2 separate regions of the Homo sapiens genome follow, and region 1 is linked to region 2. The links come from fine-mapping of genetic effects on gene expression. A gene starts in region 2. The other region holds a variant in brackets. All regions are shown on one strand. Distances are between the middles of the regions.

Region 1 (8,550 bases), 750 kb after region 2:
ACCCTCTGAAGGAATAGTCCGAGCTGTACCTTGGCTCCTTTTAGCAATGGCTGGAGCTGGAGTGGCTGGAACGCAGGGTGCCATGTCTCAAGGATGCATAGATCAATGGGGCCCTGGGCCTGGCTCACAAAACCACTTCTCCCTCCTTGGCCTCCAGGCCTGTAGTGGGAGGGGCTGCAGTGAAGGTCTGAAATACCTGGGAGACATTTTCCCCATTGTGGTGGCTATTAACGTTTGGCTCCTCTTTATTTATTCAAATTTATGCAGCTGGCTCTAATTTATCCCCAGAAAAATAGGTTTTTATTGCCTACCACATGGTCAGGCTGCAAATTTCCCAAACTCATATGTTCTGCTTCCCTTTTAAATATAAATTTCAGTTTCAGATATAAGCTCTTTGTTCATGCATATGGGTGTACACCGTTATAAGAAGAAAATAAATAATAAAGATCAGAGCAGAAATAAATAAAATTGAAACAAAGAAAACAACACAAATGATCAATAAAACAAAAAGGTTTTTTGAAAAGTTAAATTTCCCCAAAATTGACCAACTTTTAGCCAGACTAAGAAAGAATAAGAGATGATCCAAATAAATAAAATTTGAAATGAAAAAGGAAACATTACAACTGATACTGAAGAAATTTAAAGGATAATGGCTATCACGAGCAAGTATATGCCAATAAATTAGAAAATCTAGAAGTAATGGAGAAGTTCCTAGATGCATACACCCTACCAAGATTGAACCACGAAGAAATCCAAAATATAAACAGACAAATAACAAGTAACAAGATCAAAGCCACAATGAAAAGCCTTCCCATAAAGAAAAGCCTGGGATACGATGGATTCACTGCTGAATTCCACCAACCAATTAAATAATTAATACCAATCCTACTCAAACTATTCCAAAATATGGAAGAGGAAGGAATACTTCCACACTCATTCTATGAGGTCAGTATTACCATGATACTAAAACCAAAGACTCATCAAAAAAAGAAAACTACAGGCCAGTATCTCTGATAAATGTTGATGCAAAAATCCTCAACAAAATACTAGCAAGCTGAATTCAAAAAAACATTAGAAAGATAATTCATCATGAGCAAGTGGGCTGTATCCCTGGGACACAAGAATGGTTCAACATATGAAAATCAATCAATGGGATACATTCTATCAACAGAATGAAGGATAAAAACCATATGATCATTTCAATTAATGCTGAAAAAGCATGTGACAAAATTCAACACCCCTTCATAATAAAATCCCTTAAAATGGGTATAGAAGGAACATATCTCAAAATAGTAAAAGCCAGATATGACAGACCCACAACTAGTATCACACTGAGGAAAAACTGAAAGCCTTTACTCTAAGATCTAAAACACTAGAAGGATGTTCACTGTCACCACTATTATTCAACACAGTATTGGAAGTCCTAGCTAGAGTATTAAGAAAAGGAAATAAAGTCATCCAAATTGGAATGGAAAAATTCAGATTATTCTTATTTTCAGAAGATACGATCTTATATTTGGAAAAACCTAGAGACTTTACCAAAACAATTATTAGAACTGAGGAACAAATTCAGTAAATTTGCAGGATACAAAATTAGCATACAAAAATCAGTAGCATTTCTATAAGCCAACAGTGATCAAAAATTAAAAAGAAAAAGAAATTAAAAAGTAATCTCATTTACAATAGCCACATGTAAAATTAAATACCTAAAAATTAATTGAACCAAATAAATAAAAGATATCTACAATGAAAACTATAAAACACGGATGAAAGAAGTTGAAGAGGGTACCAAGAAATTGAAAAGTATTCTAAGTTCATGGACTGAAAGAATAAATATTGTTAAAATGTCCATACCGTCCAAAGCACTCTATAGATTTAATGCAATTCCAATGAAAATATCAATGACATTCTTCACAGAAATAGAAAAAACAATCTTAATTTGTATGGAACCATAAAATAACCAGAATAGCCAAATTATTTAAGTGAAAACTACTACAGAAAACTTTGGGGAAACTACTACAAAAAAACATTGGGGAAATTCTCCAGGACATTGATCTGGGTAAAAATTTCTTGAGCAATATCCCACAAGCACAGGCAACCTAAGCAAAAATGGACAAATAGGATCACATTAAGTTAAAAAGCTTCTGCATAGCAAATAAAACAATCCACAAAGTGAAGAGACAACCCACAGAATGGAAGGAAATATTTGCAAACTACCCATCTGACAAAGGATTAATAACTAGAATATATAAGGAGCTCTACAACTCCACATGGAAAAAAACCAATAATCTAATCAATAATGGGCAAAAGAGGTACATAAACATTTCTCAAATGAAGAAAAACAATGACAAACAGGCATCTGTAAAAGTTCTCCACATCCTTGATCATCAGAGAAACTCAAATCAAAGCTATCATGAGATCTCATCTCACTCCAGTTAAAATGGCTGATATCCAAAAGACAGACAATGCTGCCAAGGTGGGAATGTAAGTAAGTACAACTACTTTGGAGAATGGTTTAGAGGTTCCTCAATAAACTAAAATTAGAGCTTCCCTATGATCCAGCTATCCCACTGCTGTTATATACCCAAAAGAAAGGAAATCAGTATATTAAAGACGTATCTGCACTCCCATGTTTGCTGCAGCATGGTTCACAATAGCTATGATTTGGAAGCAACCTAAGCATTCATCAACAGACAAATAGATAAAGAAAATGTGCTATATATACACAATGGAGTACTATTCAGCCATAAAATGAATGAGATCCTATCATTTGCAACAGTATGGATGAAATTAAAGGTCATTATATTAAGTGACATATGCCAGGCACAGAAAAACAAACATTGCATGTTCTCACTTATTTGTGGGATCTAAAAATGAAAACAATTGTACTCATGGACAAAGAGAATAGGATGTTTACCAGAGGCTGGGAAGGGTAGTGGGAACCTGGGGGAGAGGTGAGCATGGTTAATGGGTATAAAAAATAATAGAAAGAATGAATAAGACCTACTATTTGATAGTGCAATAGAGTGACTCTAGTCAATAATAACTTAATCACACGTTTTAAGATATCTAAAGGAATGTAATTGGATTGTTTATAACACAGAGGATAACTGCTTGAGGGGATAGATACCCCATTCTTCATGATGTGATTATTTCACATTGCATGCCTGTATCAAAACATCTCATGTACCCCATAAATATATAAACCTACTGTGTACCCACAAAAATAAAAAATATATATTTATTAAAGTTAGTCAATTATTGTGCTACAACAATAGTGCTCCTCATAACACACATGTGATTAATTGTATTGGCATCAAAAAAATAGATTAACCATGTTCACAGAATAAGACTGTAATTACTCTGTTAGTTAACTTTTGCTGTATACCAACTACAAAATATCAGATGCTTACAACTACAGCATTTGTTATAATTCTCACTGGTCAGTAGGTTGTCAGAGACCCTCTTCATCTAGGCTGCTTTGACTTGCTGGCTTTGCTTCAGTTCTCTGGGAACCAGGGACTGGCTCCAGGCTCTGAATTTGGCTCAGGTTTGCACCATGTACCTCCTTCTGGAAACCAGATTCAAGGGGAATTACCTACTAGGTTAGCACTACCCCAGTACAAGAAATCAAACCCTGCAGCAAAATCACACTGAAGCTCTTGCTTTTATCACATCCACTAACATCCTATTGACCAAAACAAGTCATGAGGACCACAATGGCCAGAGAAAATTATGTGTCTAAAGTGAGAGTGAATGTAAATACAATCCGTCCACTTTGTCCCTCCTGATGTGGATGTGAATGTATACTGCTGCTACTAGGAAGTAAAGAATTGAGACCGATAATTCCAAATGCCACTTGTAAGATTCCATTTACATAAAACATTATAAGTGTTCACTAAACAGATAATTATAGTTAAGTTTGGGGGATGTAATTTAAGATTATTCTTATTTGTTCTATTTTTTCTGAAATATGCAAAAATTTAAAAAATTAAATTAAATTTTATTTTAAACTGACAATAATTATGCATAGTCATAGTGATGTTTTGGTGCATACCATGTATAGTGATCAGATCAGGGTGATTAGCATATTTATAATCTCAAACATTTCTCATTTCTTTGTGTTGAGGACATTCAATATACATATGTATTCAAAAATATACTAACATTTTGAAAACTAAATGAAGAATTAAAAAAATTATATTCCCTCTTTTTTTCCTGGCCTGATCAGAGTTAAATAACCTATCTCTTGGTGTGAAGAATCTAAATGAGAGACTTACTTGCATTTTCCTCATGTATCTAATTCCTAAGGATTGGTCAGAATTCTTACTTCTTAAGGAGGTACAATACAAATGGAAGATCTTCTATCTAGTTGAGAAGAATGCTTCTGTCTTATTTTTCCTTTGCTATGTAGATGATTAACTCTTCTAGCTTTATCCAGTATTAAGGTATAGATATAGTGACAGGACTAACAACAATAAGATAACAACAGGCACACACTTGGATAGTTGTGACAAGATCTGGACTCTGGCCCTTCCTATGTCATTGATATGTAATGTACCAGTGGGTGGATCATGTTCATTCTTTGGGGCTTGTAAGTTTGCATCAATATACACAGGCATACTTCCAGGGACAGGAAGCTACATGCACATATATGCACTTATGTGTACGTGAATGATCATTTCATGCTTGGTGAGCTGAGTTCTCACAGAAACTTTAGTATCAGGAGCCCTGTACCACCAAACACGGAGGGACATCCTACTCACTGAGCACCACCCACCTTCCTGGGCTGCAACCTGTTGAGTATTCTCTTTCTAATCTCCTTCATCTTGACACTATAGAGAATAGGGTTTATCAATGGAGGAAGAAGGAAATGGACATAGGATAGAAGAGTATGGGTATGCTGAGTGATTGGCAGCTCAGGATGGTTAATCAGTGCCAGGAGGATCATAG[G/T]GATATAGAAGAGGAGCACTGCAGAGAGGTGGGCAGCACAGGTTTGACCAGCCTTCCAGCGATCCTCTCTGGACTCCACACCTTGCAACACCTTGCCAATCAGGCCATAGGAGAAGAAAATAAGCAGGGGGTCCAAACCCATGGCTGAAAGAACCACAAATAGGCTGTAGGCTGCACCCCAAGCTTCTGGGCAGGCCAAACGAGCCACATCTGGATGCAAGCAATAAGAATGGGTTAGGACCTGTGGGAGGCAGTAGGGCATGTAGGCCAGCAGGAATGGCAGGGGCAGATGGAGACCCAGGCATCGAAAAGAAATGGCCAGGCTGATTTTGCTAATTACACCATTGGTGAGGAGCGCTGGGTAGTGGAGAGGTCGGCAGATGGCCAGTGCCCGATCAATGGACATGGCGAGCAAGACAGAGGACTCCATGACAGAAAAGACATGGATAAAAACCATCTGTAGAAGGCAGGCTGAGGCAGGGACAGTGTGAGCACCAGCAAGGGCGATGCCCAGCAGTGTGGGCATCAGGGCAGTGACCAATCCAATATCAGACACACTAAGCAAGAAGAGGAAGAAGTGCATTGGGCGGTGCAGGGCGGGCTGCAGGGCAATGATCCAGAGGATGGTGCCATTTCCCAGTGCAGAGAGAAGGTAGACAGCAATGAGGGGCAATGTCCACCAGGAGGGTGCACCTGATAGGCCTGGCATGCCCACCAGCAAGAAGGTGGGGGCCATTGAAGTGCTGCTATTGGGGGCTATCTGAGTTGGTAATGTTGACATAGTTCAGGATTCCACGTTGAACTCTGGAACCTGAAAAATGATTAGAAAGGTTTACTTAATCGCGTGCCAAATTTGCATGAAACGTTCCAAAATAGCCTGCATCTTCCCTTCCCTGACTCATGCACTCACATACACGTACACATATACACATTTCCTCCCTGTGCACGCACCCATCCTAATAGTATATGCAGCATTCATTCCTTGCCTTTGAGGTTTTTCTATAGCTGTCCTCATAGCTCTGTGGTTCTGTTTCTTTTCCTAGATTGTTTTCACATGTTTTTTTAGCTTGCCTCTCCCTGTAGTGTTATCCTATTTTTTCCCTCCCTTTATGACAAACACTTTAGGAAACAGTCCATTTATCCATATTTTTTTCTCTTCCCAACCCCAGACAGTCTGACTTCTAGACTGCCTTAAGATACTTACATTTTGGTGCACTTTAACTGTTCTTATTAAGTCCCCAATTACTCCTTTATTTCTAAATTAAGGGGCACTCATTTTTTCTAAGCTTGATTTATTTCTTAATGAGCTTTGGCTACTATGGATCTATTTTTTACTTTTTTAAAAATTCTCCCTTTCAGAATTTAGCCTTTTACTTAACTTTGCTGTGTCCCTATGATTTATACATGGGTATTTAAAATTTTTATTTTATTGAAATGTAATAATTGCACATATTTAAAGGGGTGCATGTGGTATTTTGTTACATGCATAGAATGTGAAATGATAAAGTCAGGGTATTTAGGACATCCATCGCCTTGAGTAATTATAATTTTTATATGTTGGAACATTTCAAGTTCTGTCTACTAGCTATTTTGAAATATACAATACATTGTTGTTAACTATAGTCACCCTACTTGGCTACTGAACATTATAACTTATTTCTTCTATCTAAGTGTATGTTTATATTTTTGAGATATTTTTCCTTGGCCCTCTTTATTTTCCTAAGTGGTCTTATCTACTCTCATGACATCAACTCGAGTCTACAAACAGATGAATTACTAATATATATTCCCAGATCCTTCTAGGTTCATCTTACCTTGGATGTTCCAGGCAATTTAAATTCAAATAATCCAAAGCAGATCTTAACAGACACATCTTAATGCCTCTTTCAGAGTCATCAGTTAGGAAACAGTGAAGAGGAATTTATGTCAATAGCAAAACCAATAAGACACTCGTTTGTTCCCTAAGTCAGTTGTTGGTGCCACCATTAATCAATTTCCCAAAATAAAAACCTGAGAATTAGCTTCTCCTCACATGTAATATCCAAATATTATTTATAATTTTAACAAGAAGGACTGGACACACACCATAGTCATATTTTCTTCCCTGCCCAAATGCCCAGAAAGATTGGAACTGAAATTCTGGACAAAAAGACCACGAAAATTGGGATCTAAAGAAAAGTAAAATAAAAAAACTTGCTAGGTTTTGTTTTCAGGATAATGATATAGATACAAGTTAACCCTAAACATTTATTACAAAAATTCCAAATACATATGTTATAAAATATTATGTTAAAATTTTAAATAAAATATAACTTTCAAGCTAAAAAAGGAAGATAAATGCAACAAAAACCTTAATCCCACAGACTTTTAAAAAGCAATAAATAGAAACAGACATTCATTTCCAGTGTGATGGAGTGAGGAGGCTAACCCTAAACATTTATTACAAAAATTCCAAATACATATGTTATAAAATATTATGTTAAATTTTTTAATAAAATATAACTTTCAAGCTAAAAAAGGAAGATAAATGCAACAAAACCCTTAATCCCACAGACTTTTAAAAAGCAATAAATAGAAACAGACATTCATTTCCAGTGTGATGGAGTGAGGAGGCTAACACATCCTCTCCCCTACAAAGCATGTATAAAGCTGGCAAGCTGTCAATAAGATCCATTTTGACACCCTGGAAATCCATTAGAGATATAAGCTTGTTTATTGAAACGACTGAACTTTGGAAAATAACAGCCAGTTGCCTAGCATTTTGGCAAGGCTGCTTCATTCCACTGCCTCCAGCTCTATCAACAGTGGTCAGATAAGGAAACCCCACAGCTTTGTTCCTGTACTCGTGAGGCAGCTTCCGTGATTTGGAGCTCTGTCAGTTAGCACGGCAATTTTGGTGGCAAGGAAATAGGGAGGGCCAGCAACTCCACTACCCTGAGGTTCTGGTCCTCTTTGGGGTAATGTGTCCACCAGCAGACTAGGTGAGGATTTAACACAGAGTTCTGGCTGAAAAATAAAACCAGATGGTAACTGGAATCTATAGGAAGAAATGAAGAGTACTGGACATACTCAATATATGGGTAAATGTGAAGGACTCTATACACGTTTTAGTTAATTTTCCCTAAATTTCCTTAACAGGCTTGAATTGGATGAAAAAATAATTATAATACTCTATTGTCGAGTAAATTATATATATTATATATGTGTGTGTCTGTATATGTATGTATATATATTATAATAATAGCACAACAAGGGGGAGGAATTAAACATTTATTAAAACAAAACTTTTGAATTTTACTGGAATTAAGTTAATATTATTCTGAAGTAAATTATATAGTAATGTGCATATTGTAATTTATAGAACAATCACTAATAAAATGGTAAAAAAATAAAAAGATGAATTGAAATCATTCACCAAAAACATTTAAACAAATGTAATGCAATGAAAAAGCAGTGGAACAAAAAAAGACACAAGACTAACAGAAAACAAATAGCAAAATGACAGGTGAAATTTCAACCATATCAATAATCACAAAGTGAATGGACTAAGCATGCATCATAAAAGGCACATTGTTATGTAGAATAGAAAAGCAAGTT
Region 2 (8,450 bases):
AGCTATGAGAAGGCAGAGATTTTATTGAGGATGCCGCCTGTGGAATTTAAGCCTATGGCTGCACCAGTTCAGAGCCAGAGCATTCACCACTGGTGGGGCCCAGGTATTGGAAAACCATTTGCCAGACAGATGATGGTATGATGACATTTGTTTTTGTTTCTTATCTGTTTCTTCCCTCCCTATCACTTTTCCCTTTCTTGTCTTTCTCTCTTGGCCCTTCTTTCTACCTGCTTATCCTTTTGCTTTTCTTCCTCTACAATTCTACTCTCCTTTTCCTGTCTCTTTTCCAATCTATCCTCATTCCCTCCTCCTGCCTCCTCTCTTATCCTATACTTATGGCTGCTCAACTTCTGTCTATTCCTCTTTCCTCTCTCCTTCCCACCTGCCTGTTCATCCTATTTCTCTCTCCTGCCGCTCTATCCCCATTTTCCTACCCTGTCCTTGTCTTCTCGTGTTGTCCCTCTCTCCTCTTCGCCTTTCCCCTATCACCTCATCCAATATATGTCCCTTTCTTCCTCTCTGCCCCATGTCTTGCAGGGATTTGACCCATTCCGATTCGGAGTCCTCCCTCCACATGAGTGACCGCCAGCGTGTGGCCCCCAAACCTCCTCAGATGAGCCGTGCTGCAGACGAGGCTCTCAATGCCATGACTTCCAATGGCAGCCACCGGCTGATCGAGGGGGTCCACCCAGGGTCTCTGGTGGAGAAACTGCCTGACAGCCCTGCCCTGGCCAAGAAGGCATTACTGGCGCTGAACCATGGGCTGGACAAGGCCCACAGCCTGATGGAGCTGAGCCCCTCAGCCCCACCTGGTGGCTCTCCACATTTGGATTCTTCCCGTTCTCACAGCCCCAGCTCCCCAGACCCAGACACACCATCTCCAGTTGGGGACAGCCGAGCCCTGCAAGCCAGCCGAAACACACGCATTCCCCACCTGGCTGGCAAGAAGGCTGTGGCTGAGGAGGATAATGGCTCTATTGGCGAGGAAACAGACTCCAGCCCAGGCCGGAAGAAGTTTCCCCTCAAAATCTTTAAGAAGCCTCTTAAGAAGTAGGCAGGATGGGGTGGCAGTAAAGGGACAGCTTGTCCTTCCCTGGGTGTTCTGTCTCTCCTTCCCTCCCTTCCTTCAAGATAACTGGCCCCAAGAGTGGGGCATGGGAAGGGCTGGTCCAGGGGTCTGGGCACTGTACATACCTGCCCCCTCATCCTTGGGTCCTTCATTATTATTTATTAACTGACCACCATGGCCTGCCTGCCCTGCCTCCGTCCCAACCATGGGCTGCTGCTGTCACTCCCTCTCCACTTCAGTGCATGTCTTAGTTGCTGTTCCCTCAGCTCCCAGCTCCACCTCTGGGGTTCAGCTTCTGTCTCTGCTGTCCCAGTTTTGAGGTTTGGTTTCTTGTTTCTGTCTCTTGCTTTCGGGCTCCTCCCTCCCACCACTCCCCAACTTCCCCTAGCAGTTGCAGGGAAGATAGGACGAGTAGCTTCTGACATGTGTGCCTCAGATCTGTTCCACCCCACTCACAGTGGTTCTGTTTGCTCCAGACTGGGGCTAGGGCCTAATCTTTGAAGTTTGTTCTTTGGTATTGATGTGGGTCAGAAGGAGCCTCATCCTAATCTCACTCAGGCCTCCAGGGATCCATGGGGGAGTGAAACCAATTCTCAGAGAACAACCCACCAGAGACTTTTAAAGAGAGGCCAGGCTTGGGAATGGGTTGGGAGAGGCATCTGTTCATTGGAGCATGAGTGGATGCCAGAACTGTAGGTTATAAGGCAGTCACTTTTTCTCTCTACTCCCACCCACACCTGCCTCCCTCTTACCCCTGCTCCCCCACACTGCAGGAGGATTTGTCTCTAAGAGGTGCTGCCCCAAAGCTCCCCAAGCATCAATACTCCTAGGGCTCAGGACAAGTGGCTCCCCTGGCCAGGAGAGCCACAGCCATGATACAGGGCTCTTATGGAGCCCTGGAGTTGTTGGGCAAGGATGCTGTCATTTTTTGAACCAAAAGACAAACAGGTTAAAAGGAAAAAAAGTAATCTGAATTTCCCAAGTGCCTACGCTGCATATTCCCCTTGTTAGATCCCATTTTCATGTTACTTTGTAGCCTTGGCCAGAGGCTCAAAAAGGACACAACCAGTTTGGGGAAGGGGTGGCTAAGGAAGATGGTATAGGTGAAGGCGGCTGTGTGACCACTTTCCCCCACCCTTCCCACCCTCTAGACAACTCTCTCCCTTACCTGTTTTTGCTATGGCTGTAAAGGTATTTTTCCTCTGCCCCACTCCCTGCCATACCTTTATCCTGGGATCCTATTTTGGGCCTGGGGTGGGTATACCTGGGGCTGGTCTTAGGAGGGTGCTAGGCTGCAGACTGCCTTGTACTCCCTGGACACCCTCAAATGGGGTTTTCTGTGTTATTTCATAAAATTCTTTGAAGTCCAATAAAGCATGTAGGAGATTTTAACCACTGCTGGCTTTGACTCTCATTGTGTTCTCTGTGCTGTGGCATGATGGGATAAAGAGACAATCTTTCCTTTGCCCAGGGAAAATGAAACTTGAATGCACATGCCCAGAAGCTCTGTGGGCAGGGTTACCAGATAAATGCAGGATGACCAGTTAAATGTGAATTTCAGATAAACAGTTTTTAAAGTATAATTTTCTCTCATGCAGTATCTGGGACACATTTTTATTTGCTAAATTGGGAAACCCTATGTCTGGGTAAACTTGACCCTATCTATCCTATAACTTCACTTACGACTTTTAAAAAACATATCTATTTAATTTTTCTTTCTTTTTTTTTGTTTTTTTTGAGACGGCGTCTCACTCTCTTGCCTAGGCTAGGGTGCAATGGCGCGATCTTGGCTCACTGCAACCTCTGCCTCCAGCGTTCAAGCGATTCTTCTGCCTCAGCCTCCTGAGTAGCTGGGATTACAGGCGCGTGCTACCATGCCTGGCTACTTTTTGTATTTTTAGCAGCGGGGGGGTTTCACCACGTTGGTTAGGCTGGTCTCGAACTCCTGACCTCGTGATCTGCCCGCCTTGGCCTCCCATAGTGCTGGGATTACAGGAGTGAAGCACCGCGCTGGCCTACTTTTTCTATTTTTTGTAGAAATGGGGTCTCACTATGTTGCCCAGGCTTATCTCAACACCTGGCCTCACATGATGCTCCCGCCTTAGCCTCCCAAAATGCTGCAATTACAGGCTCACTTACGACTTTCCATGATTTTTGAAATTACTTCACAGGGAGCCTGGGCAGCTTCTGGAGGGCAGTGAGAAACCAACGAAAAGGCTTTAGGGAAAAGATGCCACAGATGAAATTTCATAAAGATCGCTTTGGGTAGCCCAAATCAGAAGCTTCTACACCAGCCTTACATATTACGGTTCTCATCTATTCTTATTCTCCACTCTAAGTCACCAAGTCCATCCTACCTCCACAAGGCAAATACCCTGTCTCTGCCACCATCCACTGAAGAACCCTAAAAGCAAATGGGTACTGACCCTGCCCTGCTTAAAATTCTCTCAGGGCTCTGATTTGCGTCAGGATAAAATCCAAACGCCATCGGCCTTGCGCGGTTTTCTTCCAGTTCCAGAGTGTCAGTCCTCTGGCCGATCTAAAAGCCCTGGGGCTCCAAGCTGCCCACGGCTGTGGAGCCTGGGCTGGAGCCCACAGCGGACGGCAGTGTTAGTATTATTATAATAAATGTCAGAGCAAGAAAAACGTTCCCGCCGGTTAGGTTTTGTTATTTCAAAAATAAATTAACCGCCTTTCCTCCGGCGGAGACGCGCAGGTGAGAGGGCGGCGCCTGACCCAGCGGGCTCTAGGTGCTACGCCAGGGCCCCGAGGGTCCCGAACTCGGCTTGCCCACACAAAACATGGTAGCAGGAGAGCAGCATTTCCGCCGGGCATGTCCATATCCAATGGGGCCCATGGGAGAGGCGTAGTCTTCTGGGTCTTGCCCAGACTCAACATGGCGGCTACACGTCGCCTGTCAGTCTGTGAAGCCTACCCCGGGCGTGGGCCGCAGCGTCGAGTAACGTCATTCGAACCCCGTCGCGCCCCTTTGTGCGTCACGGGTGGCGGGCGCGGGAAGGGGATTTGGATTGTTGCGCCTCTGCTCTGAAGAAAGTGCTGTCTGGCTCCAACTCCAGTTCTTTCCCCTGAGCAGCGCCTGGAACCTAACCCTTCCCACTCTGTCACCTTCTCGATCCCGCCGGCGCTTTAGAGCCGCAGTCCAGTCTTGGATCCTTCAGAGCCTCAGCCACTAGCTGCGATGCATGTGATCAAGCGAGGTGAGGGGGGGACGAGGTGGGCGAGAAGGAAGGTGAGGGGATGCGGGCTGCCGCCGCCGGAGCTGATGCCCAGACCGCCCGCCCGCCTTCGCTGCTTCCCGCCTTTCCCGCATTTCCCGCCGCGGCCTTCCGCCCTGTCAGCCCGCTCGGCCTTCTGTCTTCAGTCAGCCTGCCCCGAACCTCCTTCGGGCCTTCAGGCTGCGCCCCCTCGGCTTTGTCATCCTGCCGCCTTTCAAAAGGATAACACTTACCCCGTATCGAGTAGTGACTGCGTACGCCGAGCACTTGCCAGGCACTATTTTATTCCTCCCTGCAAGCCTCTGAGAGATGATTAGCTTATTACAGATGAGGAAACTGACGCTCAGAGCGAGGTGTCGCCGACTGACCCAAAGTCACCCATAGGTGACAATACGGTTTGATTTGAAAACCGTGGGGTTGGTGAGCTGTCTTAGGCACAGGGTCGGGGGGCAGCTAGGAAAGAAGGAGGGGGCCTCTCTACCCTCCGTAGGCACTTGTCAGTTTACTGATCTCTTTTGTGGGGTGAGGATAGGAGTGTGGCGTGGAAAAAACAGATCCCAGACAGACAGCACCCTCGAGTTCCTTTCCCTTCATGGGAAGAGATGCTGAATCAGAGAAGGGTGGCTGAGACATCTTCTGACAAGATGGGGACTGGGAAGAGTCAGGAACTCGTATTCTTTCTCAACAGTTCTTTTTCATTAGACTTGCCAAGTGCCCGCTTTGTGCCCAGCCCTTTGCTTGGCTTTGTGAGATTGTAGGAGGAGACAGTCCCTGCCTTGGGAACAGGCTTCATCGGGTTGGAAAAACAAGAGCAACATACTTTTAACAACCGCATGAGATACGTATGAACAAGTTTTGAGTTGAACCTACTTGCCTTTGTTAAAGCAATACAATGATTTCAAAATTGTAGGCACTTAGTAAATACTGGTTAATCGACTGGTTGTTTCTATTTTGTCCTCTAGGCTGTGAACATTTCAAAGATGGAGACTTGTTTGAGACAGAGTCTTGCTCTGTCACCCAGGATGGAATGCAGTGGTGTAATCATAGCTTACTGTAACCTTGAAGTCCTGGGCTCAAGCGATGCTCTTGCCTCAGCCTCTCAAGTAGCTGGGACTATAGGCATGCACCACCATGAGTGGCTAATTTTTAAAAATTTCTGGTAGTAAAGGAGTCTTGCTGTGTTTCCCAGTCTGGCCTTGAATTCCTGGCCTCAAACCATCCTCCCTTCCTTGGCTTCCCAAAGTGCTGGGAATACAAGCAAGATGGAGACTTTTCTGTTCACGTTTAGCACAGGACCTGACATGAACAGATTCTTAAAGAATGAATGAAAATAGTTGTATCAAAATGTAGGACACGATGAATGCTGTGAATAAGCAGGTAGTTGATTTGGTTTAACTACAGCCAATGTCCAGATTGGTTTAACTACAGACAAGAGTTGGAAAGGTGGACAGTAGTGGCCTTTCTTGTTTTTGGTATCTTGAGAACATCATTCTGTGAATTTTCCTAGCTCACATTTTAGCTGACCAAAGAGCAAAATAACATAGTGCACTTTTATTGATCCATTCATAAGAGTGAGAGCTGAGCATCTATTTTTGTATTTTTATTTTTTTACATTATTATTTATTTGTATTTTTTTAGAGAAGGAGTCTCGCTATGTTGCCCAGGCTTGTCTTGAACTCCTGGGCTCAAGCATTCTTCCCACTTCAGCCTCCCAAAGTGCTTGGATTACAGTGCTGGGAGCCACCGCACCTGGCTTGAGCATCTATTTTTTAAATCTTTAGATATGGGAGAGATGTTTAGGATGGTCTATGATAAGTCAGTAACAAAGATGAATTGAAAATGTATGGACTTAGATGACCAGAATGGGTAAAATTCAACCCTGTGTTGAATTTTGAACTTTTAGAGTCTACTTCTAAATACTTTCGTTTAAAAAGTGCTACCTTGGCCTGGCGTGGCAGGGCATGGTGGCTCACGCCTGTAATCCCAGCACTTTGGGAGGCTGAGGTGGGTGGATCATTTGAGGTGTGGAGTTTGAGACCAGCTGGGCCAACATGGTGGAACCCCGTCTCTACTAAAAACACAAAAGTTAGCCGGACGGTAGTGGTTTGCACCTGTAATCCCAGCTACTCAGGAGGCTGAGGCAGGAGAATCGCTTGAGCCTGGGAGGCAGAGGTTGCTGAAATCGTGCCATTGCACTCCAGTCTAGGCGACAGAGTGACACTCTGTCTCAAAAAAAAAAAAAAAAAAAAAAACCACAAAGTGCTAGCTATAACTAGCTCTAAAAAGCAGAGCTTATTTTCTCATTCCTTCATAGAGCACAATTTGATCCAGATGGTTCATGCTGTAGATTCTGCCATTGTAGCATTCAGCAAGACTTAATATACAACATGTACTTAGATTTGTTTGTTTCTTTTTTTTTTTATATTTCTATGTTTCTATATTTTAATGTTTTTTAATATGCATAGGGTTTTTGGTTTTCTGGACTTTTTTTGTACCCCCTTATTTTTGGCATGTCAGTGGAATAGCAGACTAACTCCTACAGTTTTTGTTAATTTTCTTTGAGATGGGGTCTTGCTCTGTCATCCAGGCTGGAGTGCAGTGGTGTGATCTCAGCTCACTGCAGTGTCTGCCTCCTGGGTTCAAGAGATTCTCCTGCCTCAGCCTCCTCAGTAGCTGGGACTACAGATGTGTGCCACCACGCCTGGCTAGTTTTTGTTATTTTTAATAACAAGGGCAACTGGAAGTTGACTTTGAAGTACCTACTGAATATGCTAATGTCTTGCTAAACACTGTGAGGGCAGTAATGGAGAAGGCAGCTCTATCTTCAAAGAACTTAAAATTGTTAGGGATTTAGGAACAATCCATATGAAAATTATTAGATAGAAGAGAATAGTAGATGAGTTTTTTTCATCTGCTATCTTGAGCTATTTTTCCTAATGGGAGAGTATCATTCCTCAAGGAGATTATGGTTAAAAAAATAAACATTGAGAACCATTGCAGTAAATGACAAAGTAGCTAACTGAGTTGTAAACTGTTTTGGAATTTAGTGTAGTATTTTCAAAACTTTGGATTGTAACTCACAGTAAAAAACAAAACATTTTACAGACATGTGTATATATGTGGATACACATAAAATGATACAAAAGTTTACGAAATAATGTCTTTGAAAGCATCCATTTGCACTCTAATCTTTCTTTTATTCCAGATTCTTTCCCTATCCCTGCCTCCCTCCCTCCCTTCCTTCCTCCCTTTCTTCCTCCCTCCCTTCCTTCCCTCCCTCCTTGCTTCCTTCCTTCCTTTCTCCCTCCCTTCTTTCCTGCCCTCCTCCCTCCCTCCCCTCCCTCTCCCCCTCCCTCCGTCCCTTCCTCCTTCCTTCCTTCCTTCCTTCCTATTCCATTCACAGCCTGCTAATATTATTTTACAACTCTGTGGATACCGTGCTGTTCACCGGGATTGCAGTGATGAGTAGGCAGACATGGTTCCAGCTTCCAAAGATCCTACAATCAATTGAGAAAGATAGACAAATAAAGAAGTAATATGATAAAATATGATAAATACTCTGATAGGTAAAGTATAGGCAGTAGAGGCCATTCATTCAGTTATTCATAAAGCATTTATTCAGCACCTCTTTGTGCTAGGAACCGTTGTAGGCATTAGAGATTCTGCAGTGAACAAAGCTAAATTACATTTCTCATTGAGTTGACTTCTTGGTGTGGGTGGGAGTGGTAAGTGTATATAAGAAATAAGAAGTAAACATAATAATCAGTTAATTTCAGATACTGATTAATGAGATGATAGTAAAACAGGATCATGTGATAAAGATGAATGAGAAAATAACCTTGGATTGGGTAGCCAGGAAAGGCTTCTCTGAGAAGCCAACATTTGAGCTGAACCCTAAATAGTATTAAGAGCTAGTAATGTGAGATCTGTGGCCTGAACATTCTCGGCAGAGGGAATTAGAAAGTTTGTATCCTGTGGAAAAGGCACGCATCCTTGGTCTTACAGGATTAGGGAAGTCTTCCTGAAGAGAGAAGAATGAAAGACAGTTTATAGCCAAGAGGAAATCACACTAGTATGCTAGAGGATTTTTTAATTTTATTTTTTATTTTTTGAGACGGAGTCTTGCTCTGTTGCCCAGGCTGGAG

What was found. PIP is the estimated chance that this variant, and not a neighbour inherited with it, causes the effect.
Region 1: its variant is fine-mapped to the expression of RRM1 in pancreas (GTEx, PIP above 0.99).

The regions. Positions count from the first base shown.
Region 1 is chr11:4,843,475-4,852,024 of GRCh38, forward strand. All of the region lies in intron 2 of MMP26 (matrix metallopeptidase 26), which reads left to right. It overlaps OR51S1 (olfactory receptor family 51 subfamily S member 1), which reads right to left and starts at 5,734. Exons shown (of 1, transcript NM_001004758.1): 1 at 4,763-5,734. The coding sequence starts at 5,734. The coding sequence ends at 4,763. The variant G/T (reference allele first, on the strand shown) is at 4,954.
Region 2 is chr11:4,090,745-4,099,194 of GRCh38, forward strand. It overlaps RRM1 (ribonucleotide reductase catalytic subunit M1), which reads left to right and starts at 4,055. Exons shown (of 19, transcript NM_001033.5): 1 at 4,055-4,287. The coding sequence starts at 4,269. It overlaps STIM1 (stromal interaction molecule 1), which reads left to right. Exons shown (of 13, transcript NM_001382567.1): 13 at 538-2,464. The coding sequence ends at 1,054. RefSeq lists a silencer at 715-1,009 and enhancers at 3,685-3,754, 3,815-4,284.